Linked DNA regions of Homo sapiens: regions 1, 3, 4, 5, 6 and 7 are each reported to be linked to region 2. Evidence: microRNA targets listed by miRTarBase, many of them from high-throughput screens and not tested one by one. Region 2 holds a microRNA gene; each other region holds the end of a gene's coding sequence.

Evidence for each region. The annotated mature microRNA hsa-miR-650 reads AGGAGGCAGCGCUCUCAGGAC and lies in region 2 at 1,806-1,826, opposite strand. An mRNA with a match to its seed (bases 2 to 7 or 8) in the 3' UTR can be bound and repressed. Matches are read on the target gene's strand: a 7mer-m8 pairs with bases 2 to 8, a 7mer-A1 pairs with bases 2 to 7 and ends in A, and an 8mer does both.
Region 1: miRTarBase lists OCIAD2 as a target of hsa-miR-650. The part of its 3' UTR that is shown has no 7-base or 8-base seed match.
Region 3: miRTarBase lists LYRM4 as a target of hsa-miR-650. The part of its 3' UTR that is shown has no 7-base or 8-base seed match.
Region 4: the mRNA of PSD4 is a reported target of hsa-miR-650. Seed matches in the 3' UTR shown: 7mer-A1 at 2,036-2,042, 7mer-m8 at 2,399-2,405 and 7mer-m8 at 2,585-2,591.
Region 5: the mRNA of PLXNB1 is a reported target of hsa-miR-650. Seed matches in the 3' UTR shown: 7mer-m8 at 3,716-3,722.
Region 6: miRTarBase lists ITGA11 as a target of hsa-miR-650. Seed matches in the 3' UTR shown: 7mer-m8 at 1,544-1,550.
Region 7: miRTarBase lists BLOC1S5 as a target of hsa-miR-650. The part of its 3' UTR that is shown has no 7-base or 8-base seed match.

What each region holds. Positions count from the first base shown.
Region 1 is chr4:48,881,540-48,886,161 of GRCh38, forward strand. OCIAD2 (OCIA domain containing 2) reads right to left here. Exons shown (of 7, transcript NM_001014446.3): 7 at 3,480-4,026. The coding sequence ends at 3,945. Among named protein-coding and RNA genes, the nearest start is that of OCIAD2, 23 kb to the right of the region's middle.
Region 2 is chr22:22,819,995-22,824,616 of GRCh38, reverse strand. MIR650 (microRNA 650) reads right to left here and starts at 1,841; the gene lies at 1,746-1,841. It overlaps LOC105372948 (a long non-coding RNA gene), which reads left to right. Exons shown (of 4, transcript XR_938047.2): 4 at 2,981-3,636. It also overlaps IGL and IGLV2-8.
Region 3 is chr6:5,105,751-5,110,372 of GRCh38, reverse strand. It overlaps LYRM4 (LYR motif containing 4), which reads left to right. Exons shown (of 3, transcript NM_020408.6): 3 at 882-1,954. The coding sequence ends at 950. The region is part of intron 3 of LYRM4-AS1 (LYRM4 antisense RNA 1); the gene reads right to left. Among named protein-coding and RNA genes, the nearest start is that of PPP1R3G, 23 kb to the right of the region's middle.
Region 4 is chr2:113,200,154-113,204,773 of GRCh38, forward strand. It overlaps PSD4 (pleckstrin and Sec7 domain containing 4), which reads left to right. Exons shown (of 17, transcript NM_012455.3): 17 at 1,005-4,620. The coding sequence ends at 1,262. Among named protein-coding and RNA genes, the nearest start is that of PSD4, 28 kb to the left of the region's middle. RefSeq lists enhancers at 3,732-3,781, 4,122-4,171.
Region 5 is chr3:48,400,377-48,404,998 of GRCh38, forward strand. PLXNB1 (plexin B1) reads right to left here. Exons shown (of 38, transcript NM_001130082.3): 38 at 3,478-4,214. The coding sequence ends at 4,110. Among named protein-coding and RNA genes, the nearest start is that of PLXNB1, 27 kb to the right of the region's middle.
Region 6 is chr15:68,299,599-68,303,598 of GRCh38, reverse strand. It overlaps ITGA11 (integrin subunit alpha 11), which reads left to right. Exons shown (of 30, transcript NM_001004439.2): 30 at 469-4,000. The coding sequence ends at 540. Among named protein-coding and RNA genes, the nearest start is that of FEM1B, 24 kb to the right of the region's middle.
Region 7 is chr6:8,011,703-8,016,232 of GRCh38, reverse strand. BLOC1S5 (biogenesis of lysosomal organelles complex 1 subunit 5) reads left to right here. Exons shown (of 5, transcript NM_201280.3): 5 at 405-2,666. The coding sequence ends at 584. The region is part of intron 4 of BLOC1S5-TXNDC5 (BLOC1S5-TXNDC5 readthrough (NMD candidate)); the gene reads left to right. It overlaps EEF1E1-BLOC1S5 (EEF1E1-BLOC1S5 readthrough (NMD candidate)), which reads left to right. Exons shown (of 7, transcript NR_037618.1): 7 at 405-2,666. Among named protein-coding and RNA genes, the nearest start is that of BLOC1S5, 50 kb to the left of the region's middle. RefSeq lists a silencer at 3,974-4,182.

The DNA of each region.
Region 1 (4,622 bases), not on the chromosome of region 2:
TTCTTTCTTTCACGTGAGTCTATCTACGATTTTATCTTGCTGTTCTTTTCCAAGTTTTTTTCTTTTTTTTTTTTTATCATGAAGGTACTGCTTTCATAAGCTTGTGACCAGCTTTGTGATGAGTGTTGGTAATGGTGAAATGTCAAAAGGCAGGTGCTGTTCCTTTAACACAAGAAACAGACATTCTCCCCCAGGTACTAGCTTTCTAATATGTACAATAGATAGGCAGCTGGGTGCGGTGCCTCATGCCTGTAATCCTAGCACTTTGGGAGGCTGAGGCAGGTGGAACCCTTGAGGTCAGGAGTTTGAGACCAGCCTGGCCAACATGGTGAAACCTTGTCTCCACTAAAAATGCCAAAAATTTAGCCAGCCGTGGTGGTGCATGCCTGTAATCTCAGCTACTGAGGAGTCTGAGACAGGAGAATCACTTGAACCTGGGAGGCAGAGGTTGCAGTGAGTCAAGATTGTGCCACTGAAGTCCACCTGGGCGACAGACAAGCAAAACAAAACAAAACAAACGAACAAGAAACCCAAAAAAATAGCAGCAGAATAATCAAAGCCTCTTGGATGAACTTCCAGTTTTTTCCTTATTGATTTTCTTTCACTCTAAGATAGATCGTCATGATAAACTGCTTCAATGAATAACTTCTCTACGTAGGAAATGTAGAAAGCCCAAGCAATAAACCCAATTTGATTGAGAAGAACTATGAAGATGTCATCTGTAAAAACAATGCTCCTTTCAACAATAATAAATGTATTGGCCAGGTGCAGTGGCTCACCCCAGTGGCCCAGCACTTTGGGAGGCTGAGGCAGGTGGATCACGAGGTCAGGAGATGGAGACTATCCTGGCTAATACGGTGAAACCCCATCTCTACTAAAAATACAAAAACTTAGCCAGGCTTGGGGGCGGGTGACTATAGTCCCAGTTACTTAAGAGGCTGAGGTAGGAGAATGGCATGAACCCGGGAGGCAGTTGGCCGAGATCGCACCACTGCACTCCAGCCTGGGTGACAGAGCAAGACTCCGTCTCAAAAAAATAAAAAAAAAATAAAAATAAAAATAAAAATAAATAAAATAAATGTATCTTTCCCCAGTACCTTGGGATAGATTTTTTACATTGACTTGCTGTGCTAAGCAATGTGAAATGTTCTGATCCCTAGGAAATCATTTTCTGGGGAGTAGGAAATAAATGTGCCCAATTCTGAATTTTTGCCAATAGCTGAGATAACAAAGAGTCACCAACTGCTAGTTATCAGAGACAAGAGTTAAACTTGCATTTAAGATGATAGGATATTGGCTTTGCATTCTGATTTACAGAAATAAAACTTTATGGACTGAAAAAATAGCATACGTAATATAAAAAGAGGCTTACTCTTAATGTTCATGTAAAAATTAAAACTTCTGTATAATTTGATGTTTAAAATAAAATATTTCATGTAAACGATTAACTTTTAATGAAGTTTCTCTTTTAACTTCCATGATACATGTTCAAGATGTATTAAGTAAAACCCAAATGTGTACATACACAAACCTCTTATATATCTATCTATCTATGTATCTATCTATGTATCTATCTATCTATCTATCTATCATCTATCTATCTATCTATATATATATATATTTTTTTTTTGAGATAGAGTCTCGCTCTGTCACCCAGGCTGGAGTGCAGTGGCACAATCTCTGCTCGCTGCAACTTCCATCTCCCGGGTTCAAGCAATTCTCCTGCCTTAGCCTCCTGAGTACCTGCGACTACAGGCATGTGCCACCACACCGGGCTATTTTTGCATTTTTAGTAGAGGTGGGGTTTCATCATATTGGCCAGGCTGGTCTCAAACTCCTGACCTCAAGTGATCTACCTACCTTAGCCTCCCAAAGTGCTGGGATTACAGGTGTGAGCCACTGCACCTTGCCTATATATTGATATAAATGATGATACATATATAAAGCATTCTTCTGAGAAGTTGCAAAGATGCAAGAGTAGTTTTTCTGTAGGGCTCAGACAACCTGTCATACATAAAACAAAAGGTTCCCACATGGAAGGGTTTCTTTTTTTTTCCTTTCTTTCTTAATTTTTTTTTTTTTTTTTAGACAGAGTCTCACTCTGTTGCCCAGAGTGGAGTGCAGTGGCACTATCTTGGCTCACTGCAACCTCCACCTCTCCAATTCAAGAGATTCTCGTGCCTCAGTCTCCCCAGTAGCTGGGATTACAGGCATGCACCACCATGCCCGATTAATTTTTGTATTTTTAGTAGAGACAGCATTTTACCATGTTGGCCAGGCTGGTCTCAAACTCCTCCAGTGATCTGCCCGCCTTGGCCTCCCAAAGTGTTAGGATTACAGGTGTGAGCCACTGCACTTGGCCAGATTTTGTTATTGTTGTTTTCATGCAACAAATCTGACAGGAGAATAGGAGTCCAACCCCTGGAGTTGCATTGGCTGCCTCTGAACTCCCTAGAATTCTAAATTTATCATTCCATGTATTAATTATTCCAGTGATTCCTCCCATAAATAAGTTGTTCCTTGGGGAAAATGAGAGACAATTTGGGAAGTTGTGTTTCTTGTTTCAGGCCACTAGTAGTATATGAAAGAACCCCATTCTTGAGGGCTGCCCATAAGCATGTGCCCATTTGCTAAGCAGATAACCTAAAGACAAAGAGGCCAGGCATGGTGGCTCACACCTATAATTCTAGCACTTTGGGAGGCAGAGGTAGGTGGATTGCTTGAGCTCAGGAGTTCAACACCAGTCTGGGAAACATGGCAAAACCCCCCCTCTACAAAAACTACAAAAATAGTGGGCATGATGGCACACACCTGTAATCCCAGCTACTTGGGAGGGTGAGGTGGGAGGGTGGCTTGAACCTGGGAGGTCGAAGCTGCAGTGAGCTATGATCATGCCATTGCACTCCAGTCTGGGTGACAGAGCAAGACCCTGTCTCAAAACAAAAACAAAAACCAAAACAAAAACCAAAACAAAAACCAAAACAAAAACAAAAACAAAAACAAAAAAAGACAATGGTCACTTCCAAAACTCCACTGTTGAACCATACTGTTGAACCATAAGGTCACCTGGAGCACTGAAAGGATAGTTGATTCATATTTTGACCCTTTCCAACAAAACACTTTTCACTAAGTTAAAAATGTTGCCCCTACATTTTAGGAAGCCCTTCTCATACCTGTAAGTCAGTCTTGTCCTGTTTCTATCTCCATACACATTAATTTTCTTGGGGTCATGACTTCCTAACTTCTTCAACATTAATTCCAATTCTCTATCAGATAACTTAAAACACTGAAAAAAAAAGCAGAGTAAAAGAAAGAATAGAGGCTAATCTGAGAAGACTTAATTCTCTTATTTAGCTGTAAGCAAGTTGGGGTGGGGGTGCAATGTCATTTGTGTGTGTGTGAGGATTCCTAACATGTTGTGTGTGTGTGTGTGTGTGTGTGTGTGTGTGTGTGTGTGTGTGTGTGTGATGGAGTCTAGCTCTGGCACCCAGGCTGGAGTGCAGTGGCACAATCTCTGCTCGCTGCAACTTTCGCCTCCTGGGTTCAAGTGATTCTCCTGCCTCAGCCTCCCTCTCAGTAGCTGGGATTACAGGCATGTGCCACCACGCCTGGCTAATTTTTATATTTTTAGCAGAGATGGGGTTTCACCATGTTGGCCAAGCTGGTCATGAACTCCTGACCTCAAATGATCTGCCTGCCTCGGCCTCCCAAAGTACTGGGATTACAGGCATGAGCCACTGCGCCATGCCCCGACATGTTCTTAAAGAGCAGAAAAACATGTAACGCTTAGTTCACTTGAAAGCCTTCCACGGAATACATTTCAGTGAGTGACAGACACAATGTTTTTGTTCCATTAGAAGTATTTTATTTTAAAGTACACTTGAAATTTTAAATGTGTACAAATTCAGAGGTTTAAAAAACTTCGAAAGTCACAGACACAGAATTTAGGAAGCTGAAGGCTGAGAGTCTCCCTTCTCACTTAATCCATGCTTTATTTTGCATTCCTCACAGGTAAGGAGGCAGTGCCTAGAAGAGAAGCAAAAATAGACAGCGGTTTGTACTTTGACACTGGAAGCCCTAGTCTTTACATAACATATTATTCTTATTATTTTAACATAATCTTTTTAATAGAGATGTGGGGGGAGTCTATCTATGTTGCCCAGGCTGGTCTCGAGGGCTCAAGGGATCCTCCCACCCAACCCTCTTGAGTAGCTGAGACTACAGGCATGAACCACTGCACCTGGCTTTAACACAATATTAGAAATATAGTCTATGCTAAAGTTCACTAGCCTTGTTTTTTCAGAAATAATAGGAGTATTCTCCCATTCTGTAGGTTGCCTGTTCACTCTGAAGGTAGTTTCTTTTGCTGTGCAGAAGCTCTTTAGCTTAATAACATCCCATTTGTCAATTTCGGCCTTTGTTACCATCGCTTTTGGTGTTTTAGACATGAAGTCCTTGCCCATGCCTATGTCCTGAATGGTATTGCCTAGGTTTTCTTCTAGGATTTTTATGGTTTTAGGTCTAACATTTAAGTCATTAATCCATCTTGAATTAATTTTTGTATAAGGTGTAAGAAAGGGATCCAGTTTCAGCTTTCTACATATGGCTAGCCAGTTTTCCCA
Region 2 (4,622 bases):
AGGGAGGCTTCCACAGCCAGAGGGAGGCTTCCACAGCCAGAGGGAGGCTTCCACAGTTCCTAACCTCTTTGGCAGATGTAGCCTGAATGCAGCCTGGCCTGACAGCTTGGCTGCAACCTCGTGATTAACCAGGAGCGAGAATGACCAAACTAAGCTACTCCCAATTCTAGGTGCATCCAAGTCACAAGGTCACAGACATGTGTTCTCTTAGTGTGCTAAGTTTTGTGAGTGTTTTTTTATGCATCAATAGACAATACACTTTGGTTTTTGAAATAAATTTTAGTGTTTATATTTCAGGTACACAACATGATGTTATATAGTAGTTACTTTGTAAATATATATAGTAAACTAGTTACTTTGTTTTAAATATAATCTGTATAATCGAAGTTTAAGGAGCCTAAACTATATATGATAATAGCTGTATTTAACAACTGGCTCAGAAAATTTAAATATTGGACCCAGCTAATGTCCGAATGTGTTCTAAATCAATTCTCACCATTAGATTATTAGGGATTCCAGGTACAAAAGTATTGACAGCCATGAAAATTAGAAATGCTCGATGTCCATGAGGAAGGGAGGTGGACTCAGGTTAACTCTTTCCTGTGGAGCCATTTTGGAATCCCCCATCCTATGGGAAGACCGTCCACTTGTGAGGAGTTTCCAGGACAGGGCCTCAGCGATGTGAGGGGAGGAGAATTCTGCGAGAGCACTGAGCCTGTCACTCAAAATCTCCCCAGCTCAGCAACCTGAGGAATTTCGGCAAAGAGCAGGAGCAATAAAAAGAAAAACAGCAGCATCCTCTTTGTTCTTAATCCCTCAAAAACATCTTCAAGTCTTCTTAAAGTGGTCACTTTAAGCTAGGAGGGCCATCTTCATTAGAGCGTGGTGGACACAGAGTGGAACAAGATGCAATTCCTGGAAACTGGAAGCCATCCCCCTGATGGCTTCTGTCCAGATTGATCTGCATAGTGTGACAGATGGGGGATGCATTTAGAATGAGGATGTTCCTGAAAACAGGAGGGACTGCACCAAGCAGTAAACTCCTTGTCCCTACGTCCCTGCATTGAAGAGCTAGGAATAGTTGCACGTTAAGGGACCAGAGCACACAAGCAAAAGGAAGTTGCCACAGTCCTGAACGAGAAATCACGAGCAGGTTTCCTTTTAGACCTCATGGTGGGAAAGGAGAGGAGCTGAGAGAGGAGAATTGTCAAGGCCATCCTGCAGGAAACCCTTATACAGCGTGAGGAAGCATCTGCAGAGCAAGAAGGGGGCCTGAGAGCCCAGGGCAGGTTTTGATCTTACTTCCTCATTGACTTAAAACACTGTGGAAATTGTTGCTGCCTGCATATGAGCTGCAGTAATAATCAGCCTCATCCTCAGCCTGGAGCCCAGAGACGGTCAGGGAGGCCGTGTTGCCAGACTTGGAGCCAGAGAAGCGATCAGGGACCCCTGAGGGCCGCTTACTGACCTCATAAATCATGAGTTTGGGGGCTTTGCCTGGGTGCTGTTGGTACCAGGAGACATAGTTATAACCACCAACGTCACTGCTGGTTCCAGTGCAGGAGATGGTGACTGACTGTCCAGGAGACCCGGACGCGGAGGGAGGCTGAGTCAGGGCAGACTGGGCCCAGGACCCTGGAAAGGGAGAAACACAGTCTAGTGAGTCAGTGCTGGGCCCAGGTGAGCCTGAGGAGCAGGAGACCAAGGATCAGCCCAGAGGTCCCTGTGGCCCCTTCCCTGGAGGCATCACCTGTGCCCTGAGTGAGGAGGGTGAGGAGGAGCAGAGCCCAGGCCATGGTGGTGACGTCCTGAGAGCGCTGCCTCCTGAGACCCCAGCACTGGGCCTGCCCCCAGCCCTGTCTTATCCCCTCTGCCTCAGAGAAGGGCGGGACCTCCATGCAAATCTGCATCCTGAGCTCCTCTTCTCACCCCACCCTCACTTGGGCCTGGGCTTAGAGACTTCTGCTTCCCTTGACAGCGGGGCTCAGCCAAGGAGACTAAAGTCCCTGATTGTCTATTCTGATGACAGGAAGTTGATTTCTTTGCACGTGATTTGCTCAGGAGAGAAAAATCTGCTGAAGCCCCTCACCTGAGTGAGCTCTTGGCCCTCAGTGTCTCTGCTGTGTGGTGCCTGTGTCTCTGTGACCCTCCAGGCCTGGGCACACCTCGAAGTAACCTCTTTCTGGCACTCATTGCCAGGTTCTCTCTATTCTCAGGAAATGGGGCTGCCCAACCCCACTGGAAGCCTCTGCTGGGTGGCGTTGGTCCCTGGTCTGCCCAGCGGCAGCCTCGTCCCATCCCCACTCCCATGCTTTGTCCTGAAGCATCTGCACCATCAAATCCCTGGAGCACATCAGCCACCCCAGGCAGTGCACCCACATCCACACGGGCACATGTGGGTGGGACCCTGTGAAGGGAACAAGGAGCACCAACCAGGGCCACAGTCCTGAGCCTGAGTCCGCTGCTCCCAATCCTGCCCCTCCCACTCATGAGCAGGTGACTTGTCCTTCCCAGCCTCTGGTTCTCAGCCTGATAAATGGAGACCACAGAGTCCGTTCTGCATACAGGTGATCCATGGGGATATGAGCCAGCAGGGAAAAGGGAAAGTTTGCTAACAGGCCTTTCTATGTGCACCAGAGTGATGTTATCTTGAAAGGTTTATTGAAAGATTTACTTCCATTTTACTGTGATTTATGTGTCAGGTCACAGAGATGCACGTTTCCGGCTTTCTTACTTTCCCCCATCTGAGCACATCCTCAGGACAACCTAAAGCTGACCTCTCTCAACCCTTCGACACTGAAGACACACAGACATTCAATAAAGACATTTTTAGTTTTTCCTCCAAATGCGTTTAATCTTTCTTCATCTTTCCCCATTGCCTATGATGCAACTCTTTTAATGTTCCATATTAAAATAACTATTAAGGGATTCAGGTTCTATTTAAATATTGTAACATACACTATCCTGTCTTCCCATCTAGATTGAGCTATAAAACCATGACAAGTGCATGGAGCAGCTATTTGAGCACCAGGAAAGGAAATGGTACGCAGCAGTTTGGGATGGCCCCAGCAGATGAAATACAACAGAGTCAGTGTGAGACTGCTGGATTTCCTCACTGTCCCCTGGCTGGGACTCCAGACAGCCCCAAACCTGAAGGGGCACAAACCTGAAAACAAAAAGAAGTCCAGAAAGCCCTCTTGTTCAGGATCGAACTTGGGAAAGAAAACTTATTTGGCTCAAAGTGAAGGCTCAGTCCCCTGCACAAGCAGGTGGTTCACACCTGTGTTCTCATCTCTCTTATACCAGCGCCTCTCCCTGGGTTCACACTGATGTCCTATGGATGGAGACGGGGCTTCCTGCACCAGGTCACTCCACAGCCCCTGTAACCTGAAGCCCTGCAGACCAGCCTTGTTCAATCACAATGTGATGTGAGCCTCATGGGAATCCCACTGTCTAGTCATCATGTTATAAATACAAAGAGAAGAAGTCAATGAGTTTAAATAATGTATTTTATTTACCTAGCATATCAAAAAGAGTATCATTTTCATATATAATCTAAGTACAATTATTTATGATATATATCATATACTTTGCATGGCTATTGTTATTATTTTTTGAAGAATCTTTATGTGGAGATTGTGTGGCTGATGGAGATGTGAATGGGTTTCCTGTTGACAAGGGTGGGTTGTGGTGGCTTTTTAAGTGTCAACTTTGATAGGCTGGAGGAGGGGTGGAAAGAATGATTTTTTACACAGGATGTGGAGGGTGGAGGTAGGCAGTGTCCATACTTAAGCTCACCCTGTGGGTGCATCTGTGGTCCCTGCATGGGGTAAGGCTGCTCCTCCTGCCCCAGGTTTCCCTGCAGGGAGATCTGACTCCAACTCTCCCTTAGACCCCAGAGCACCTGGCGAGTCAGGCTCCCTTCTCATTCCATGCAAATGCAAGAAACACTCAGATCTCATTGGGCGTGTGGATACTCACAGTGCTAATTTAGGAATAAACAGGTGCTTTCCAGCATACAGTGGCCTCCTGAAGTCCCACATGGCCCATGTTGGGGATGGCTGGTGATCTTAATTGGGTTCCCTGGAAGCAGACTCTGAGATGAGGAATTGCATGCACAGAGGATGTGAAAGGAGGTGAGGGAGGCAACCCTGGGCAGGAGACCCTGACCCTCATTGAGGTCTCAAGTCTTTCCTACAGAGAGCTGTGGAGCTGGGAGGATTTTCAGGTCTTCCTATATTGAGGCAGAGTCGAGAACTCGGCCTCAGGCAGTCATGAAATCTAACCTCACTGAGAAAGGGCATAGACCTGGAGGAGTCTGTTTTCTGCACCGAACAGCACTTTACAGTGAGGACACAGCTCTGACCTGCCAGAAGCTCCCAGTAGTGCTTAGTGGGTAAGCTCAGAACAGGGGATCTGGGCAGATCCCACAGTGTCTACTCCATTGGTGTTTCTCTAAAGAATGACAGGCTACCACAGGAGCCTGAGCTGGGCAGTTCTGGGGACTGATCTAGGACATTTGGGGCAAGGACTGGCCTGTCACCACCTATGGAAATCCAGAGACAACTGTGGATGTCTACCTCAGTCTGATCTTCCATGCAGGCCCTATTTTCCCAAGTCAC
Region 3 (4,622 bases), not on the chromosome of region 2:
ACTTCGAAATAGAGCACTAAGATCGGGGAGGAAAACCATGAGGATGTTGACCCCTGGCTGCTCTGTTTGCTTAAACAGCAGTTACTCACCCCGAATTACCCATAGATAGTGACCAACTGGTCTGAAATCCAGATAGAGTTGCTAATGATCAGCCCTTCCTTCACCCATTCCACTTGTTCTTAAAAATGTATCACTCAGGAAATGCTTTACAGAAAAACTGTGGCAAGACCCTTTGTTGCAGAGGAAAGACCTGCTCTAGCCCCAGAGGATGGCTCCAGCATCCACCTGGGACAGTGGAAACATTGGGCATTAAGACACTTAATAAAAAGGACACTTTAAAAAGAAGGGGGCAGGAAAGATAGAAGGCAGGAGGTGCAGGCACTCAGACAACTGCCCTCGACCCCACCCGGGATGGGCCACGGACAGGTGTCTGCATTGCCCTGAATGCAGCGCTTTTCCTACCCCAGCATAGACGGCGCCCATTTCTGCACTGTTCTAAAACCCCTTCCCTATGCGAGAATCAGTTCTAAGGGAAGGAAGCCCTCTTAGGAGAGGAGGTACTGGGCACACATCTGACAGCTCTGCCACCAGCAGGCAGGCGTCACCCAGCTCAGCACAGCCCCGAGTCCCAGGCTGCAGCCTCCTGTGCTGTTTCAGAGGGGAGGAATGGGTGTGTGGATCTCTGTAACTTCTCACAGTGAGGGAAACGGGGGTTGGATGGTGCTCTAGTGGCCGGCTTTGCCCCGCAGTGCAGTTGCCGGAAGGGAGCAGCCCTGGGATGGCCGACGTTTGTATTAGAAATGTTAGGAAATGTTCCTTCTGGCCTTTCCCAGGGGCTAGAGGGCCACGGTTCCTGACCTGTGTCCTTTCTTTGCCTTCAGGTCCACATTGGCCAACTGTATTCAACTGACAAGCTGATCATTGAGAATCGAGACATGCCCAGGACCTAGCAAGCCGGGGACCAGCCACCAGTGGCGGCCAGGGACCACCTTCAGCATCCACTCTCTGTTTGAGATGGGGGCTCCCAAAACCAGCTTACAATAGCCTTTTGCGCTGCCTGTCCTGTGGGAGCTGATAAACCAAGTCACATTTGCATTCTGTTGCAGGCTTAGTGAAAAAGGACTGCTGTCTTTCCTTGGTTCAAGTGTTAGAATGGAGAGCTGGAGTTCGTTCAGAATAGTGCTGTGTGTTACCACGTCTCCCCTGCACCCCATTCCTACCTTGTAGCTCATGACCATTGTGTATAGCATTTCTACACTTTGTTTCTTGGTCCTTGGCAATAAAAAGAATGATCTCCCTGAGCCTTTGACCCCAGATAAACCCCTCCCAATTAATGCATTTTCATTTCCTACTGATACAAGGCCTGGAGAGGGCTGTTGGGGGCCCTCAGGGAGGGTTCAACTCTGAGACGAGAACTGCCTTGGTGAAGGCAAGTTCAAGCACCACTTGAGACTGGGGGCAGCATGGAGTAGGGCAGGGCTACGGGGATACACGGTGCACCCTGCAACTTATACCTGAGCCCAGTACAACAAAGGTGACGGGTGTGTAGGTACACACCCAGAGATGGAGCACTGCAGATCAGCAACCTCAGCCCCACCTGGGAATTTGCTGGAAATGCAGGCTCAAGCCCCTCCCCACACCTGGTGAATGAGAGAGCCCCAGCCTGACCCAAGCCCAGGGCGACTCCCATACCCTGAAGCCTGGGGCATGCTGGGCAGCACCGGTGCCCAAATCTGGCTGGTGGACAGAAGCACCTGGAGAGTTGGAGAGCTTTTTAAAAAGACATCTCTCAGCACTTCCCTCTCTGCAGATTCTGACTCAGTAAGTGAGGGGTGAGGCACAGTCATTTTTCTCTATTCTGAAGCTCTCCCACTGTTTTCAATGTTTAACCAACTGGGGACCCCTGCTCTTTAAGTATATTACAGGTAATAAAGATATTGTTTGTATGCTTTTATTCTTGGAAACAGATTCATTCCAAACATAGAAAGAACATATTAAATAACTTGCTTGTCATCTGGGGAGTTTACGAGGGACCAGACCTGGCAGAGCGGTTTCTTGTTTCCCTTTGCATACAGTGCTCAGTGGATTTGGTATCTGTGGGTTAAGGTTTGGAACAGGCTCCTATAAATAGCACCGGTCCTGGAATAGCTGCAGCACTGTCACCCCCTCATTTTAACTCCGACGGTCATGGGAGTGAGTACGCACTGTCTGAGCCCGTGTTCTTCTCACCCTCATATGAGAACTCATGTCTTCCAGTCGCTTTTAGAGAGCATAGATTTGCTGCAATGATGCGTTCAAATAGATGTAACGTGTAGCCATTCTATTTGGCAGTACAACTTTTGATTTCAGGATAAAGTCTTTTTTTTTGAGATGGAGTCTCGCTCTGTCACCCAGGCTGGAGTGCAGCGGTGCGATCTTGGCTCACTGCAACCTCCACCTCCTGGGTTCAAGCCATTCTCCTGCCTCAGCCTCCCGAGTAGCTGGGATTACAGGGGCCTGCCACCACGCCCAGCTAATTTTTTGTATTTTTAATAGAGACGGGGTTTCACTATGTTGGCCAGGCTGGTCTTGAACTCCTCGGCCCCCCAAAGTGCTGGTATTACAGGCATGAACCACCACCCCCTGCCAATTTCAGGATAAAGTCCTGAGCATCTGTGAAAATAATGAAGCTCTTAGCAAGTCCCAGATCTCTTACCCTCTAACCAGTTCCTGCCTGGGAGCTGCAGTGTTAGAGCATATGCAAAGCCCTAATTGGGGGAGAGCTGTTCGGTGGACAGTGAACGGAGGTGATGTGGCAAGTATAATCACTCCCTTCAGCTGACTGTCACGGGGCAGAGCCGCCCAGCCCAGCCCTGTGTGTGGCTCTGGCTCAGGTTTTCCACCTTGCATCAGTGCAGTGGAGTTCGTGGTCACTCAGCAGTGAATGCATCCAACCACGCTACTAACGCACGGCACTGCTGATTTATACTTAATTTAAGCAACTGCTACTTGGAACCGAAGTCCAGATTTGAACCTCCGTGCTGAAGGCATCAAATTGCCGGCAAGATAACAGCTCCAGAGGAGACTTCTCCCACTCCCCCAGGTTTTACGCAATGAGGCAGTCCACCCAAACTTAACGTGGGCTGCAGGCTGTAACAGCAGGTTGCTTTTGTGTTCATTAAACTGCATGAATGGGTTTGAACATGCCCAAAGCCTTGCTAATGCAGACTTAATTTTGTAAAATTAACTATGCCTTTGGAATCTGCAGAAAGATACAAATCCGAATTCTGTGGCAGGAAACGCCACAAACAGGCCTTGGTCCTCCACCTTTCAGGTGTATATCTGGCAGGCAGAGCCTGGCACTGGGTACTCCCCAACTGAGATGACCCAATATTGATGCTAGAGCTTCGAATAAAGTGGCATTCCCATGGGGGTGACCCCTGGTGTTTCTCTAGGGAAGTATTCCACCTCCTTGACTATGCACCAACTGAGGGGAATGTGGGCAACTCCAACATCCATCATGGCCAGCCTCACAGAACTCTCTAGAACTTGTGCCTGCTTTGAAGATAGGATCCGGGCTGGGGTCTGGAGATCACTTTGCAGCACTAATATTGAGCAAATGAGAACTACTATCATTAGTTAACTTCCCAGGCAGAACTCATTGGCCGAGCAAGGCTATATCCTAGACTTTCAGAGACAGCTCTGGGCTGGGCTGGCTGTCATGACATAATAGCTGGGAGATCTTGCACGGCCAAGTACAGGGCTGTGTTGTTCTGATGGCTGTTGGAATCTGGATTTTGGAACTGAAAGAATTGGCTAGATTGCTTTAGGTATACTCCGTCCTGCTGCTAACTAAGTAGCAGTGACCTTTAACTCCCTTCATCCACAGCCTCTCCCGTTAATCTCAAGCCCCACCATACAACCCACCATCATCCAGGAGCAAAAGGGACAGGCAGAGGGTGAAGCCTACAAAGATGACAAACATCAGAGCTCACCTAGTCCAACCCTCAAATCTTCAGGTGTTAAAACAAAGAGCCTGAACATCTGCAGATCACGTACAGAGTCAGGGCCTTTCCCCTAAACCCCTTTCACTCATTCATTTATTCACTCAGTATTGACTAAGGCCACCTAGTGCCAGGTGCCAGGTGCCAGGGAGCAACCAGTGAACAAGACAGACGTACCTTCATAAAGCCTGTGTCTAGCAGGGAAATCTGAGAAGAAAATGACAAGTCTTATGAATGTTACAAAGAGGGAAATATGAGTGCTGCCAGAGCCGATGGGACGGGCCAGGGAAGGGCTCCCCAGGGGATATTTACACGTGCAAATTAATGATGAGGATTGGCTGTGTGAAGGTGGGGAGAGGAGCTCTCTAGGCAGGAGGAACAGCACATGCAAAGCCCTTAATTGGGGGAGAGGGTAGTTCCATGCAAAGAACTAAAGGGAGTCTGGGATGGTGGCAGCCAAGGAAGAGGGCTCTTTCCACATCGTGGACGGCCTTGGAGCCTCAGCCTAAGGATGGTGAGCAACTCGGGAGTTTTTAGGCAAGATGAGGTTTTTGTTTTGTTTTGTTTTGTTTTTTTGAGACAGAGTCTCGCTCTGTTGCCCAGGCTGGAGTGCAGTGGCATAATCTCAGCTCACTACAA
Region 4 (4,620 bases), not on the chromosome of region 2:
TGTTGAAATGTTTTATCCCTTAGTCTCCCCCAACCCTCACCCATCCACCCACACTCCCCAATTCTGCTTTGGTGTGACGTCAGTTCATCTGGGATCCTAACACTGGGTGCCTGCTTCAGGGATCCTGGGTGCCTGCTTAGGGTGAGGGCCCACTGGGCAGGAAGGGTAGGTGAATGCAATGTGAAAATAGAGGGAATCAGAGGCCACCCAGAGGCAGAGACCAGGAAGTGGGAGTCAACATCGCCTCCTGCCTGTCCCCGCTGTGCCCGCATGCAGCCCTCTGCCTGTCTTTCAAGGTCCCAGGCTATCCCTTGGCTTGTTGGTTGTATCCATGGCTGTGAACTCCCCACTTCTCAGAGGCCTCAGGGTGTGGCTGTGAGGACCCAACCTCTTCCTCCCACTGACCAGCTGGGACCTTTAACAAGTCACCAGCCCTCCCTTCCGCAATGATTTGTCCCCTCCCAGGGCTGGCATGAGGATCCAATGGGATGGAGGGTGAGGAAGCACTTTGTAAACTGGAAACCATATCCCAAGGATGCTAGCTGCAGGGGCCTCAGGAGTACAGTGTTAAGTAGATGAGGGTAGTTAGCATCATGCTCCACAGATGCCAATTGTTAAAATGCTATTTAGACCCAATTAGGGCTGTACAGATGTGAGCTGTTTGTGTGTAGGGCTGCAAAGATCTCAGGCATAGTGGGTGACACATCTTTTAGTGCCTCAAAGATGGAACATGGCATAGAGATGTTAGTTACAGCACTCCAAGGGGTTGGTTATTATTAGAACAGGGCTGGGCTGATATGTGTCATTATAATACTATCCAGAGGTGTGCTCTGCAGTCTGCTTATCCAAGCATTATACTGACACTCACGGTTGGTCCAGCCCTCTTTCTGTCGAGGTCTGTATCGCCATAGCTTCATGTACCTGTGAGCTGTCCCTCACGATTCTAGCCTCCTCCCAACCTGGAGCCAGGATGGTGCTAAGGTGGTGGGGCCTGTGTGTTGCAGAAAACCCGCTACGAGACCTACGTGCAGCTGCTGGTGGCCCGCCTGCACTGCCCCTCTGATGCTCTGGACCTGTGGGAGGAGCAGCTGGGGAGGGAAGCTGGAGGCACTCGGGAGCCCAAGCTCAGCCTGAAGAAGTCCCACTCGAGCCCGTCCCTGCACCAGGATGAGGCTCCCACCACGGCCAAGGTGAAGCGCAACATCTCAGAGCGCAGAACCTACCGGAAGATCATCCCTAAGCGGAACCGCAATCAGCTGTGAAGCCAGCACCACCTCAGAGACACTGTTCCCTGCTCCAGGGTAGACCTGAGATGAACCTCCCTGGAGGAGACTTATTTCAATGAGTCCACCATGACGGATGAGGCACCTCCTTTCCCTGCTGAAGGACAAACCTTGTTTCCCTGTGGCCCTCATTCTTGTGCTCCCTGAAGCTTTCCTAATATTGCTGTGCTCCCCACCACCCCCATGGCAGTCCCTCCGCAGCCCCAGTCCCTGGCCACGCCCAAGGGAAGAGGGAGGTGAGGACTTGACTTTCCTCCCAGAGCTCAGCCCATGTCACCCTCCAGGCCCCAGAATCCAGAGTGGCCTCATTTCCTAGACTTGCTGAGAACTCAGCACTTGTTTGAGAACCAGTGCTTATGTGGTGTGCCCTTGGCTTCTGGGGGAGAGCTTGGGGCAGCAGAGGCCCCTGGGCAGCCCAGCCAGGGGAGCCACAGCCCCAAGGATGGTCTTGCTCTGGGAATTAGGTGACCTTCCTGGGGAGGCCCCAGGAGAGTGAATCAGGGACTCTTGAGAAATTCCTAACCAGCCTCCTGTGACCCAGGGAGCAGGGTCGCTAAGGTCCTGCCCACTGAGGGGACAGCCTTCTGGGCAGGGACCTCGGGGGGCTTCAAGGGCTCTGCACGGCTGTGGGGCCCTGTGCCTTTGTCTCCTTGTGTCTCCTTTCCCCCGAAGTAGATGAAACAGTCTCACATACCCAACTGCTCATCAACAGAGCAGAGCTGATGGCATGAGTGAGGGCTGGGCGGGGTGGGGCCTCCAGAGCTTTGCAGGGAACCCTGGAACCCTAGGAACAAGGAGCCTTTGTTCCAACAGAGCAGAGAAGGAGGTTCTCTATGTTCAGACCACTGGAGAGGATAGAGAGGTAAAAGGTGGCGACAGTTTCCCTTAGGGGTCTGCCTGGCAGGAGCCACAGCTCAGGAGAGTTGTGAGGGATGGGACGGAGGCTGGCGACCAGGCGAGGCCTAGGCCAGGCTCGGGAGACTTTTCTGTGCTCCTTTCTACACATGCCTTAAACCTTCCTTCCTGTGGGGTGCCTGGACCCCTTCCCCATCTCTGGCAGCTCAGAGGGTCTCTGCTGCTCTCCCCTGGGAAATCCCCTCATCCTGCCCTCTGGCTGCCTCCCAGCTGGGCTTGTTCTCTGAGGGAGGTTCCGGAGACTCATGGACTTGGGGCTCTGCCTGTAGGAAGGAGGCTGGGCCGGAGGGACCAGCCACCATTGTCTCTGTTCAGCCAAGTGTGCAAGTAGGCTGCCCGCCAAGAGGGGGCCTCTGCTACCCGCTGCTGCCTGCCGGCTGACACACTGCCTCCCCAGCCTTCCTGCTAGGCCACCCTCCTCCCTTCCCATGCTTGTAACCAGCTCTGGGGCTTGCACCTCCACAAAGTAAGGTTGGCCCTTGGAGGCCATGTTTGGGTCTCCGGCCAGGGCCTAGGGCTAGGCCATGCACCCAATGGGTGCACAATAAATAACAGGTCAACAAAGAGGGAGGTGTGTCAGTGTGTGAGGAAGGGAGGTCAGGCAGCTAGGACCACCTGCAGTGTGGCAGGCTTCATCCCTCTTTGCTCCAAGTGTGTATGTGTGTCTGTGCATGTGTGTAGTGTCTGTGTCTGTGTGTTCATGCATATGCAGGAGTCACACGGTCATAGGCCATCAAAGCTGGAGGAGACCTCAGAATCATTCATTCACCTACTTGCTCATTTATTCATTCATTCATTTTGCAGATAATATGGGACGCTTTCTATGTGCCAGTACCAGGGGATTCACAAATGAATTAAACATGTCCCTGACTCCATGAGTTGACAATCTTGCCCACTGGTTTCCTGCTCTCAGTTTACAGAGGCACTTTTATCTTGCTGGGGAAGTGTGCTGAAAAGACACATTCCCAGCCCACACCCAGGGATGCTGATTCAGTCAGCCTGGGTCAGAGGGATAGATAAATATGTTTAAAGCTCCTTGGGTAATTCTGATGTGTAAGTAGCAGTTAGCTGCAGTAGAGTCCAATTGCCTCATTTGATTGAAGTGGAATCCCAGCATCAAGTGGACATGACTTTTGGCCCAAGACTGATGCTTACAAACTAAGTGGAGTAGGTTATTTGACCTCACTGAACATGCATCCTTTTTTTTTTTTTTTTTTTTTTTTTTTTTTGGAGACGGAGTTTCGCTCTTGTAACCCAGGCTGGAGTGCAATGGTGTGATCTTGGCTGACTGCAACCTCCACTGAATCAAGCGATTCTCCTGCCTCAGCCTCCCAAGTAGCTAGGATTACAGGCGTGTGCCACCACGCCCGGCTATTTTTTGTATTTTTAGTAGAGATGGGGTTTCGTCATGTTGGCTAGGCTGGTCTCGAACTCCTGACCTCAGGTAGTCTGCCTGCCTCGGCCCCCCAAAGTGCTGGGATTACAGGCGTGAACCACCACACCTGGCCTATGCATCCTTATTTCTAAAACCATGATAAAAGGTGAAAGTCTGAATGCATGTGTGTGTGACACTTTGATGCTCCTTTGCTCATGTAGAACCGGCACCTCTCTTTCACCTGAGCACGTGGAATCTTCAGAGCCAGATGATGGTGGCTGCCTGGCCTGCCATAGTCAATGCTGCCCAGGCACCTCTGCCTGGAGGGTCTGGGTTGTGGGCTGCAGTTATGACATGTGACCACTTGGAGGCAGGCTTGCATCTTTCTAGCTTCTGGCTGCTCAGGTGTCCTGCTGTGGAGCTGAGCTGTGCTCCCTGAAAGGCAGGAAGTTATTATGTGTGCCCCTGTGCCATCACCGAACCAGGACCTTCAACTTCGTAAAACCCACAGTGGCCTGGGCCAGGACTCCCACCATCTAGGGAAGCCTCTCCTAGGGAAAAGACTGGGGCTCTGACATCTTCCTGCAGATGGAGAGAAAGAAAGACATCTCAGAAGTCTATGGGGACAGCCTACAGCTCCCCACAGGGTTGCTCCAGGTAACGCTGGAAGGTGAAAGCTGAGCAGGCTCCAGTCCCCATCCTAGGTATGGAACAGATCAAACCACCACAGGCCTATGTCTGACCTTGTTCCCACCCCATGCTCCTCTCCCACCTGTGTCCTTCTCTTTGCAGGAGAAGGGACAGACAGAGGTTCTCAGTGATGAGCTCAGGCTCTGGAAGGGCACTTGAAGTTTGGCTTTAGTTCTTCCTTTCCCATATAGGGGAGCTCAGCTTCCAGGGTCCTGGGCCTGCTGTGACCCAGGTTGTTACTCCTGATATAACTGCTTCCTGGGCTCTCATGATCTCAGCTGAGCCTGGCTTTCTGCTGATGATATTTGTTTGTTGCTTGCCAGGCACCAGGGTAGATAAAAAGATCACCAAGACCCG
Region 5 (4,622 bases), not on the chromosome of region 2:
AGCTCAGGCTGGAGTGTGGTGGCATAATCTCAGCTCACTGAAACCTCTGCCTCCCAGGTTCAAGTGATTTTCCTTCCTCAGCCTCCCCAGTAGCTGGGATCACAGGTGCACACAATCACACCCGGCTAATTTCTGTATTTTCAGTAGAGATGGGGTTTCACCATGTTGATCAGGGTGGTCTCGAACTCCTGACCTCAAGTGATCCACCCACCTTGGCCTCCCAAAGTGCTGGGATTACAGGTGTGAGCCACTGTGCCCGGCTGTTTTCTTGACTAGTCACTCACTGTTATCTCAACTATGTCCTAAGACATAGCTCACCCTAAAACCAGAATTCACGTTAAAGACAGGGTAAGATTACTCACTAAGCTCCAGCACTACTGAATTCCACTGTTGTGATTTCTCTCTCTCTTTTTTTGAAGAGACAGGGTCTCACTGTCACCCAGTCTGGAGTGGAGTGGCATAATCTTTCACTGCAGCCTCAAACTCCTGGAGTCCAGCAATCCTCCCACCTCAACCTCTTAAATAGCTGAGACTACAGATGTGTGCTACCATGCCCAGCTAATTTTTAAACAGTTTTCGTAAAGATGGGGTCTGGCTATCTTGCCCAGGCTTGCAATTTATAGAGCTCCAGACACCCTCATTGGTAGCTGCTTCTGATAAATTCCACACTATGGCCAGAAGATGGCAGCAAACCACCAGCTTCAGCCACTTACCTGTGGCCCAGGACACCGGACCAGGTTTCCAAAATCTGAGCTTCACATTCCTAGACCTCCAGAGGTTCTCTTCATGGCCACCTGGACAACTGGCAAACCATTCTGTTTCCTTACACGTGCACATATCATCCAGATAACTGAAACTCTTATCAATAAAACCCCAACATCACAACCAGGGCATAAATTCTCTTTCAAACATCATGGTGATATCCTTATCTTAGATTTTTGGTAAACATTTGGAATTGGATAAACCATCATCCTTAATTAAGACAGAGAACACTTTTTTTTTTTTTTTTTTGAGATGGAGTTTTGCTCGTCACCCAGGCTGGAGTGCAGTGGCGCGATCTCGACTCAGTGCAACCTCCGCCTCCCGGGTTCAAGCGATTCTCCTGTCTCAGCCTCCTGAGTAGCTGGGATGAGAGGCGCCCGCCACCACACCTGGCTAATTTTTTGTATTTTTAGAAGAGACGGGGTTTTGCCATGTTGGGCAGGCTGGTCTCAAACTCCTGACCTCAGATGATCCGCCTGCCTCGGCCTCCCAAAGTGTTGGGATTACAGGGGTGAGCCACTGCGCCTGGCCGACAGAACACTTTTAAAGAGAGATCCATAAAACATCGCCAGTCAGCTGACCTAGGTAGTTTGGGGTGTATTTGTTCTTCAATGTGGCATCCTTAGGGAACCTGGTGGAGGAAACACATGCATCAGCAGCCATTGGTGCCAAGCAGAACACAGCTAGGTTCCCTGTATCCCCCAGCACCACCCAGAGTCACCTGTTGGCACTGGCCAGTGGGATCCAGGTCCTGACCATTTGGAAGGTTTCAGGTGGCTTCTAAGAATTCCAACATTCATCAGCATAAATTCAGCTGTTATCTTAATTAGCACGATTATTTCAGTATCAGAAAATTAATAAAAATATAGAACTCCTGGGTCATGTAACCATTTGGACAATTATTCCAACTTTTAAGTTGGTGAAAACGCTTTTTAATAAAGCACATCACTCCATAAAACGCCTTAAGGAGCCCCGGGTGGTAATGAGAAACAAAGGCCCTTTGTATGCTAACAGGTTTGTGAAAAATGTAATAATGAGGGCACACTTTCGTTGCAGTCTTAATAAAAATTAGGAAAAGATTGATCAAACTGAATTACAAATGTTCTATGCTGAAATTGTGGTCATGACCCAAGTTAAGCGATCACAAATTCTTGCTGGTGTTGGAATCTCCATTCTTGGTCATGGTTTGGAGTGAAGACAGAATTTCCTATCTTCTTGTGCCAGGTTTTTCTTCTCTATGTCTGTTATTATAACAATGTTCTGTGGCGGCTGAGCCATGACTCAGTGAGTGACTCAAAGCACGTTCAGTACTCACCCCTCCCGCGGGCACGTGCCCAGGCTTGCAGGCACATGGCCCCCCTCTCCCGGGAGCCTTCACCTACCCCTAAAACCTGCAGGGGCCTGAACCTGGAACAGAGAGGCCTCTGGAACAGAGGCATGGCTCTGTCGAGGTCTGTGGTGCTGACCAAGGCTGCTTCCCTCTGTGTCTGCTTGAAGTCCACCCTCAAGTGGATTTCCCATCCACCCTGCTCCCAGAGATGGTCAAGATGGAGACCCATTCCATGGTCTCCAACGGGAAAAGTCAGGACCATTCTGGGTGGCTATGAAAACCTGGCCAGAGCATCCAAGCTCACATGCTCCCAAATGATGGCACCTGGCTGCTGACCTGACTGTGGTCCCCACATCCGGCAGAAATGGGAAAGAAGGGACAATGGAGCCACAGCGAAGAATAGCAGCTATGACTACCCCCGGCACAGACAAGACCAACATGGCTCCTTAGGGACAAGGACTTTGTGGATTGTAGGGGCAACCCTACAGTGGATGGCTTTATTTAGGGCCAAAAAAAGGCAGGGGATAGGAGTCCTCCTGGAATTCTATCAGTCTGTCTCTCTCTAAACACTCAATGAAGACCTCGAGGGGAGGTTGTGGTCTCTGTGCCAGACGAGAGGAAATGCTAAGGGTCACTGGGTTATGGAGGATAAGCAGAGGGCCAAAGGGATGATCCCTCTGAAGGCCTCAAGGCTGAAGGGCCTTCCTCTCATCTGCCAGGCAGAGCTGCCACCCTATCTCTTCTGTTCCATGGGGGGCTGGCCTTCTGCTAAGGCCGAGGGTGGTCTCAAGTCAAGAGGAGTATCAACCCCCTGCCCTACAGACCCAACTAGCAACATGAGACCAGATAAGACAGTCTCCAAGCTCACCTCCAGGTACAAATCAGGAAGAACCATATAAGGCGGCCTTCATGGAGGCAGACAGTTTAGGAGCCGGCCCTAGGATGCCCTGATTTGGAAGGCAACACAGAAACCCTAAGTCCAGGAACAGGACCATGGAAAATGGCCCTCGAGACCCCCTCTGCCTAGAGTTGCCTGTAATTATGTCATCCTTTCCTAGTCCCTTTCAAGATAAATAGAACATGAGTGGAGAAGTGAGAATACGCAAACTGCAGATAAAGCAGGCCCCCTTGAAGAGACTGTAGACCCCTCTATCTCGGTCACCCGCCCTGCCCCAGATGGGGTTCTTCCTTCACGGAAGCTTTGACCCCACCAGACCCTGCCCAGGCGTCAAGGAGAGCCTCAGCCAGCCCTGCAGTCTGGGATATGATGGGGAACCATGAGACTCCCCAAGAGTATAGATACCACCTCCCCCTGGTACCTGCTGGGCATAGCTGCCGTCCTCCTAGTAGCCAGGGGCTAGGCCGGGCTCACACATCAGACTCAGTGCAGTGTGTTATCCTTTAATGAAAAGCTGGGTCAATGGAGTCACCACTCTCCCCAAGACCCCCCTGCAGCAGATAGCCCTCACCATGGCTACCTATGAGGCAGGGCAGCCCTGTGGCAGCCAGCCCTGCTGAGGGGTCAGTTTGTAGTGGCCTAGGAGAGGCGTTCAACTCTTAGACCTAGGATGTGGCAGCAGCAACAAGGCCAGAGGCAGCTCAACTGAGGTCAGGGATGGTGGAGGAGGCAGACAGGAAGCATGGGGCTCTCCTCCTTCCTCTCCGAATCCCAGTGTGGCCAAGGCCAGTGTTCAGGAACAGTACAGTCTCCCCAGGGGCCTGGAGTCTCTTCCAGCCACTCTCTGGAAGCCCTTAGTCCCCAACTCCCTGCAGACCGGTGTCACAGGGTCGCTGGACTCGGGGAGCAGGCTGGGTACTACCCCATGAGCCTTGAGGCCCCGGGTCTAGGAGGTGGATCCAGCAGGGCCGAGGCCAGAGCCACCAGGAGACTGGGAGTCACCTTCCACTAACTCTGCTTGTCAGTCACTACAGGCACCTAAGAAGGTGGCCTCTCCTCCGAGCTTCCAGGGCTGCCCAGGCCAGGCTGAAGCAACAGCAGGCCGTGGCTCCTGGGTTCCTATAGATCTGTGACCTTGTTTTCCACAGCAGCTGCAATCTGCTGGAGCCGATAGCCCAGCTGCATCTTCTGGGCCGTGCCATCCTCCTCCAGGGCAGTGATGATCTGAAACAGAGACCAATGCCATCAGGGGAGACTTCTTTGGCCAACGTGTTTGCTGCAAAATTCAACAGCCCTCCTAAGACGCTGTGGCATGAGTGGGGTAGGAGGCCAAGAAACCCAGCCGGTCACTTCACGTACTTTCTGGGACCTCAGGGCCTCGCTGGCGGGAGGGGTAATAACATCAAAGTCACCGCGGGGTTCCAGGATGAATAAGGTAGGAAATGAAGGACCTGACTCAGTAGCGAGCTCCTCAGAAGCCCTGCTGCAGCCATCCTGGCTAACCCACCCGCCAGCCAACAGTATTTCCCAAGTTCCTGTCTGCCCGGTGCCAGACAAGGGGCAGAGACCCAAGAATGACCAGACACGTGGTGGGAAAACAGACACTGATCAAACACGAACCACGAATTTGGG
Region 6 (4,000 bases), not on the chromosome of region 2:
CTCTAACCTGTTTGTGGATGCCTTTGAGAACCTGATGAAAACTAAGGTTCCTATTATTAGAGAAAAAAAAAAAAAGCAAGTACAAACAACTGCACAAAATTTCTCCCACAATGTCAAGCTGTTAACAAACCTCCCGAAGTCCATCTCTGTCTCTGAAGCTCTGGTTACAAACCCCTGGTCTCAGCCTCCTCCTGTTACAGATGAAGGAGGCCCAGAGAGGGATGTTGGCTGGGGCTGGTCACACAGCAAGATGGGCACTAGTATGACTTCTTGCATGCAGCCCATGGTCTCATCCACTGTGTTCCAGTCCACAGAGGCAGTTCTGGAGGAGGGGGTGCTCAGAATGAGCTGGGGGTACTCAAGGAAGCCCTGAGGGAGGAATCCCAAGGAAAGGTAGTGGAGGGAAAGCTGGGGCAGGCCTTGCCCACCCTGTCCTCCTCTGAGACGTCTCCCTTTGCCTCCTCACAGCTCGGCTTCTTTAGAAGTGCCAGGCGCAGGAGGGAGCCTGGTCTGGACCCCACCCCCAAAGTGCTGGAGTGAGGCTCCAGAGGAGACTTTGAGTTGATGGGGGCCAGGACACCAGTCCAGGTAGTGTTGAGACCCAGGCCTGTGGCCCCACCGAGCTGGAGCGGAGAGGAAGCCAGCTGGCTTTGCACTTGACCTCATCTCCCGAGCAATGGCGCCTGCTCCCTCCAGAATGGAACTCAAGCTGGTTTTAAGTGGAACTGCCCTACTGGGAGACTGGGACACCTTTAACACAGACCCCTAGGGATTTAAAGGGACACCCCTACACACACCCAGGCCCATGCCAAGGCCTCCCTCAGGCTCTGTGGAGGGCATTTGCTGCCCCAGCTACTAAGGTGCTAGGAATTCGTAATCATCCCCATCCTCCAGAGAAACCCAGGGAGGAAGACTGTAAATACGAACCCAATCTGCACACTCCAGGCCTCTAGTTCCAGAAGGATCCAAGACAAAACAGATCTGAATTCTGCCCTTTTCTCTCACCCATCCCACCCCTCCATTGGCTCCCAAGTCACACCCACTCCCTTCCCCATAGATAGGCCCCTGGGGCTCCCGAAGAATGAACCCAAGAGCAAGGGCTTGATGGTGACAGCTGCAAGCCAGGGATGAAGAAAGACTCTGAGATGTGGAGACTGATGGCCAGGCAAGTGGGACCAGGATACTGGACGCTGTCCTGAGATGAGAGGTAGCCGGGCTCTGCACCCACGTGCATTCACATTGACCGCAACTCACACATTCCCCCACCAGCTGCAGCCCCTTGCTCTCAGCTGCCAACCCTCCCGGGTCACTTTTGTTCCCAGGTACCTCATGGGAAGCATGTGGATGACACAATCCCTGGGGCTGTGCATTCCCACGTCTTCTTGCTGCAGCCTGCCCCTAGACATGGACGCACCGGCCTGGCTGCAGCTGGGCAGCAGGGGTAGGGGTAGGGAGCCTCCCCTCCCTGTATCACCCCCTCCCTACACACACACACACACACACACACACACACACACACACACACACACACACACACACACACTGCCTCCCATCCTTCCCTCATGCCCGCCAGTGCACAGGGAAGGGCTTGGCCAGCGCTGTTGAGGGGTCCCCTCTGGAATGCACTGAATAAAGCACGTGCAAGGACTCCCGGAGCCTGTGCAGCCTTGGTGGCAAATATCTCATCTGCCGGCCCCCAGGACAAGTGGTATGACCAGTGATAATGCCCCAAGGACAAGGGGCGTGCCTGGCGCCCAGTGGAGTAATTTATGCCTTAGTCTTGTTTTGAGGTAGAAATGCAAGGGGGACACATGAAAGGCATCAGTCCCCCTGTGCATAGTACGACCTTTACTGTCGTATTTTTGAAAAATTAAAAATACAGTGTTTAAAAACAACCAAGCACTGACATCCCATTCTGTGGGCAGAGCATATCACAGTGAGCCATACTCCCCTTTGAAGGAGAGGAAGTAGAATGAGGGAGTTCCTTGCTTCCTCCCCCCTACCTCTACATGTCAGAAGGGACTCATCCACCATTTGCTGCCCACAACATGCCCTCCTAGTGGCTGCCTGGCCTCCGTGTGACGTCTCCAGTGGTGGAGCGCTCCCTCTCCCAAGATCACCCTTCCATCTATGGCCAGTGTGGACGGTTAGGACCTAAATGTTTCACTGTAGCTTCTGCCCTTGGTTCCAGCTCTTCCCTCTCACGCCTCCCAGACTTCTCCAGGCCGGTTTCATTGTTAACCGTCTTACACTCTGACATCAGCCAAGGCGTCTCCATTCTGTTCTTGTGCCATTCATGTCTTGGATTCCCAGTAAGTAGAACCTTGGAAATAATTTGATCTTGTTTTTGCATAAATGAGGACACTCAGAACCAGGAAGAGCCCTAGGCTCCCACAGCAAAACCAAAACTAAACCCAGGACTGCTATTTCCCAAGCCAGATTCTGTTATTCGAGCCCAGCCTTAGAAGGGCTTGATGTGGAGCAAAAGGTGAAAATGGTGAAACTAAAATTTGAGTATCAAAACCCATTGCCTTCTAATAGAATCAGAAGGAAATGTTGCTAAATCATATTCCATTTCCGTCATCACTCTTATGAATGGGGTAACCTGGCTAAATGAGAATTAATGAACCCACACTCATAAGTTTTCATTGACTTAGCACCAAGTCGTCCATCAAATATCATCAGATCTGAGAATGCTCTTATGGATATCTGATTTTTAGAGGCTGGCATTCATATTTTTAAAAACTGCCACCTGTGACCACACTGCAGGCCAAACAGAATGTACCTGCTGGTCAGATGCAGCCCAGAGGTCACTGAATTGCAACCTCTGGACTCTCGGTCAGAGGCAAGCAGCCCTTATTCCAGAACTCCACAGTCCTTCACACCCTTCCCCAGACCTACACCAAGACCAACTAAGTGGTCAAAAGGTGGACAAACTGAGAGTTGTATCAAGGCCCTTAGCCTCTCAATTTGTTATCAAGTTTCCCTTTCTGAATCTATTTACCCTGAAGTATAAATACCCAAGATGAGCCTTAAGAGTGCCTGGTAGAGCAAACAAAGATGCATCTTATAGGGAGCAAAGTCTATGCTAACGCAGTGTTTCTCAATCCTGGCTGCACCTTTGAACCACGGGAGCTTTAAAAGTGACCACTGCAAGGGCCCTACCCACTATGGATCCCAATTTCATTGGTTGGGAGAGGGGCCAAGTTTGTTTCCAACTTCCCCAGATGACTCTAATGGCTGAGAGTTGCAATCAACAGGTAAGTGAATATCCAGGCTGTAAGATGAAGAAAGAGGGGGTTGTGCCCAAGCCCACTGTGCCTCATAAAGCAGATGATCTCTGCAGCGCTGCGCTTCTCAAAGAGTGGTCCCAGGACTGCCTCAGTCAGACCACAGACTCCTAAGTTCCTCCTCAGACTTCATGGATCCAAGCTCTGTGAGGTAATTCTAAGCACATTAAACTTGTAGAACAGCCATCTGGATTTAATATTACATAATAGCTATAATATTCTGCTATTCTCTAATCTTCAATGTCAGTTTCTTAAACTGTCAGGCCTGTCTTTAGATGCCCTTCAACTGTGCTGGGGACTATCTTGATGGCAGCCAGCAAAGAAAATCAGCAAAAACCCCAGTGGAGTTTCTGGGTTTTACTTTTGTTAAGGAAGGTGATGGTTTCTTGACATGACAGGTATCTAGGTGGAAAGGGCAAAGTGCTAATGCAAACACAATGGAGACACTATGGAATAGCTCTGCCTAGGGACATGTGGAAGAGCTTCTAGGAGACAGTGTGGACCTTTCCATCCCTAGAGGTCTTCACAAGATAAATTCCTACCTCCGTCAGTATTCAAAAGGTTTTAGCATCAATACTGTCTGAGAATAAGACATTAGACTTGAGTCAGTCCCCTGGCTTCAATCCCAGGATGCCAAGCAGCCTCTAATGGAGACCGCTGGCTTAATCGTGCTCCTTTCCTGGCATAACAACTCACTGCACCCATGCCTC
Region 7 (4,530 bases), not on the chromosome of region 2:
CACCTCAGCCTCCCGAGTAGCTGGAACTACAGCCATGTGCCACCACGCCCAGCTAATTTTTGTATTTTTAGTAGAGACGGAGTTTTGCCATGTTGGCCAGGCTGGTCTCAAACTCCTTACTTGAGGTGATCCACCGGCTTCGGCCTCCCAGAATGCTGGGATTACAGGCATTAGCCACTGTGCCCAGCCCACTTTTAAAATTTAAGAAATGAGAATATCCATGTTTAATTTTAATGAGAGAAGCCTTAGATGTTTCTAATGTGTCATCTTTTTTTGGATATTATAACACAACTTTTTCCTTGTGACTTACCAGCTGATTGTTACGGTAACCAAGTATCAAGAGATAACGTTATGAAATAATTGTCTGGAAAATGTCGTGTGACTTTCTAATTTTCTTTTCTCAGATTCATAGTGACCACTTAGTAGCTAGTGAGAAACAGCATATGCTCCAGTGGGACAACTTCATGAAGGAGCAACCCAACAAAAGGGCTGAAGTGGATGAAGAGCACAGAAAAGCCATGGAAAGGCTTAAAGAACAATATGCTGAGATGGAGAAGGACCTAGCGAAATTTTCAACCTTTTAAGAACTTGAACCACAACAATCACAAACTAATGAGAAGATGTTCACCTCTCTCCTGAAAACTATTCCCACCAGACCGTTTAGCCTCTGCTTCAAGCTTAGCAATATATTCAGTGGCACTCTTATATCAGAAGAAAGAAGTTTCTACTGGCATTCTGATTGGATATTTAAAGAAGGGTGCCACATTTTTCCAGCTTTAAGTGCCTATATATGATTATTTGAATGAAGAGGAGTAGGAAGGAAAATGGAATCAATATACTCTTTGTTAGTCAGAATTGATCATCTTTTCCATTGATTAGCTCAGAGAACTGTAGGTATAGACTTCTTAGAAAGATAATTTCATTCATTTCTATACAGGGTTAACAATAGTTTATTATTGTGGCTTAATGGGAAGGTATAGAAGCTACCTGTCATAGCCTCCTTGGCTGTTGGAAGGATGTATAAAGTGTTACTGCATGAGTAATGTAGACAAAAAAAAAAGCCAGCTGTCCTTGGAGCAGAGATCACATTTCAGAGAGGTGAGAGTGAACACATTGTCTCTGCTGTGGCAAAGATGGCCACGCTGGTGTTTGAGCTGCCTCTTGGGAAGCGTTGCATATTTTACAGTGCAGCATAATGCCATGGGCTTCCGTGGATGGGAAGACACATGTTAAGTTTTGTGGCCTTCCAGCACTTACTATTTTCAGCTTTTTAAAGCATGCTTAGAAGGAAAAGCTTACCAAAAATATATTTTGACATTTAGTTTTTCCAAGAGCTATAATCTTGCCCATAGTATTTACCTCATTTTTGTGTCTGTTTTGCTGTGGGTAAGCTTTATAAGATAAATAATGTCTATACATGTTTCGACTGTTTAATGAGTAATCAACAAAATCTGCCAGAGAGTCCCTCTGGAACCATATAAAGTTCCTGGCTTTGAATGAACCAGAAGTGTTTGCCCACACAGCAAATGGTCCATGTTAAATGTAAATCCTTTTTAGTGTTAATGTCTGTTCTCATAAGCAGGTATATTATGATGAAACATGTACCAGTTCTGTCATCACTGTGATCTTTAAAAACCTGCATTTAACAGTCTAATTTGAGGCTGGGTGCAGTGGCTCACACCTGTAATCTCAACACTTTGGGAGGCCGAGGCAGGCGGATCATTTGAAGTCAGGAGTTCAAGCCTAGCCTGGCCAACATGGTGAAACCCCGTCTCTACTAAAAATACAAAAATTAGCCCGGCATGTTGGTGCACGCTTGTAATCCCAGCTACTCAGGAGTCTGAGGCACGAGAATCACCTGAACTCAGGAGGCGGAGGTTGCGGTGAGCTGAGATGGCACCACTGCACTCCAGCTTGGGTGACAGAGTGAGACTCCATCTCAACAAAAAAAAAATCTAACTGAAGAACTAAGTTGATTTTTTATTTGCCATAAACCAAGCAAAAGTAAATGCAATAATTTCGAGATTTATGGTAAACAAATTTGAGGTATGGATAAATCTTTCACATATTTTTTATTGCTCTTTAGTAAAGAAAGGCACAAGAAAGAAAATATCCAGCTCTCTTGTGTTATCTCAGTGTGGCGACTGCAGAAAATTGACAATGCCTGCCTGTGTAAATGTATGGCTTACTGTCAAAGCTTCATTCTTGGCTGCATGTTGAAAATGTGATTAAAGTTAATAGAGGAGATGAAATAAGTATTTGAGATTTTTTTCAATAACACTGAACTTCTGCCAACTTTCTCTATCCGCTACTGTAGGCTTGACAGGCTCATCAATCATTTGCTGGTACCTGGACTAAAAAGCGCACTTGCTGACACCAAGGCATGTTGGAATTTTCTTAATTCAGTGGATGGAAAAAGAAATACTTCCAAAAATATCCCACACATGAAAAGGGAGGGGAGCCTTAAATGAAAATTCCCTTTGTACCGTAGACACTTTTTGGAATGCGATTAATTGCCAACACATCATTGAACGAATGCTGTAACCAAGAAATTAAGATTGTGTGTGTGAAGGGAATATATTCTTAACTGTGGCTACCCAACTTGTATAGCAAAGATTTCTGATAGTTTGTGTTCATCTCATGTGAATAATAAATACTTTACCCTATAAGTTTGTTTATTATTCCATAAATACCTAAGGGACTTCCTAAACCAAAATGAATTGATGGGCTTTTTGAGCTTTAGACATTAAGATACTCAATTGTTTCTTGTAACATTTTTAACTATTCAACATAGCTTCTATAAGAGTTGGTTTATTTACCTTCCTTTTGATATTCGACATAGCTTCTATAAGAGTTGGTTTATTTACCTTCCTTTTGATATTTTTAGTGGTGAACGCTTTTGCTTCTGTTTCCTAGTTGCCAAATCACTTTTTATATATATTTTATTTATATGTAAAAAACAATTTTAATAACTACATAATTTGTAACATTTCTTTCCTTTTTTTTTTTTTTTTTTGCGCGACAGAGTCTCACTGTGTCACCCAGGCTGGAGTGCAGTGGCGCGATCTCGGCTCACTGCAAACTTTGCCTCCTGGGTTCAAGCAATTCTTGTTCCTCAGCCTCCTGAGTAGCTGATATTACAGGCATGTACAACCATGCCCAGCTAATTTTTATATTTTTAGTAGAGAAGGGGTTTCACCATGTTGGCCAGGCTGGTCTCGAACTCTTGACCTCAAGTGATCTGCCCACTTCAGCCTCCCAAAGTGCTGGGATTACAGGCATGAGCCACTGTGCCTAGCCAGTTTGTAACATTTCTGCTGTGTTTGTGCTGTTGAGCAGAGATATTGTGGGTTCTATGTAGCTCATAGGATTATTGCAATGATCAAATGAAATAATGTTTTATAATTTTAAAGCACCATAGAAAGATTTGTTAAGTTCTATGTATTTTTAATTTTTAATTATGATTTCTTTCTCGACTAACATATGTATGAGGCTTTTTTTTCCCATTTCCTAGCGTGTATATTTTTAAATTCTGTGTTTATTGATTCCTGTTTTAATTGAATTTGAATTGTGGACAGAAAATAGGTACATGTTAAGACTGATCTGTTAATATTTGTTGAGATTTGCTTTATGACCTAGATTATAACCTGTTTTTGTAAATGTTTCATGATTGCTTGAAAAGTATGCTTGTTTTTTAGTTGTTGGATGTCCATTAGACCAAAGTTGTTAATTTTGTAGTTCAAATTTTTTCCATTTTACTATTCTTTTGTCTTCTACTTGATCTCTCAGACTCTGAGATGTGTTGAAATTTTCTATTCTAGTGAACTTACCAATTTCTCCCTGTAATTCTGTCAATTTTAGTTTTATATATTTTTATATATTTTGAAGTCTTGTTATAAATAAATAATTATAAATATATACATAAATATAAAAATACATAAACTATATATTATATTTATATGGATTATGCCAGCTAGCTGGATTTATAGGATATATCTTTTTTCATCCTTCTGTTAAACCTTGCTGTTATGTTTTAGATATGCCCTTTAAAAACTGTGTGACTGGGGCCGGGGACGGTGGCTCACGCCTGTAATCCCAGCACTTTGGGAGGGCGAGGCGGGCAGATCACGAGGTCAGGAGATTGAGACCATCCTGGCCAACATGGTGAAATCCCATCTCTACTAAAAATACAAAAATTAGCTGGGCGTGGTGGTGTGCACCTGTAGTCCCAGCTACTCAGGAGGCTGAGGCAGGAGAATTGCTTGAGCCCAGGAGGCAGAGGTTGCAGTGAGCCGAGATTGCGCCACTGCACTCCAGCCTTGGTTACAGAGCGAGACTCTGTCTTAAAAAAAAAAAAAACTGTGTGGCTGGATGTTTTTCTTTCTTTCTGATCATTTGTCAACTAAGGAGTTCAATCCATTTACATTTGTCAAAGTTACTGATATATTAAGATTTATTTGTATCATCTTATTTTGTGCTTTTTGTCCCACCTTTTCTGTTTCTTGACTTCTTTCAGCTTGAGTTTGTTTT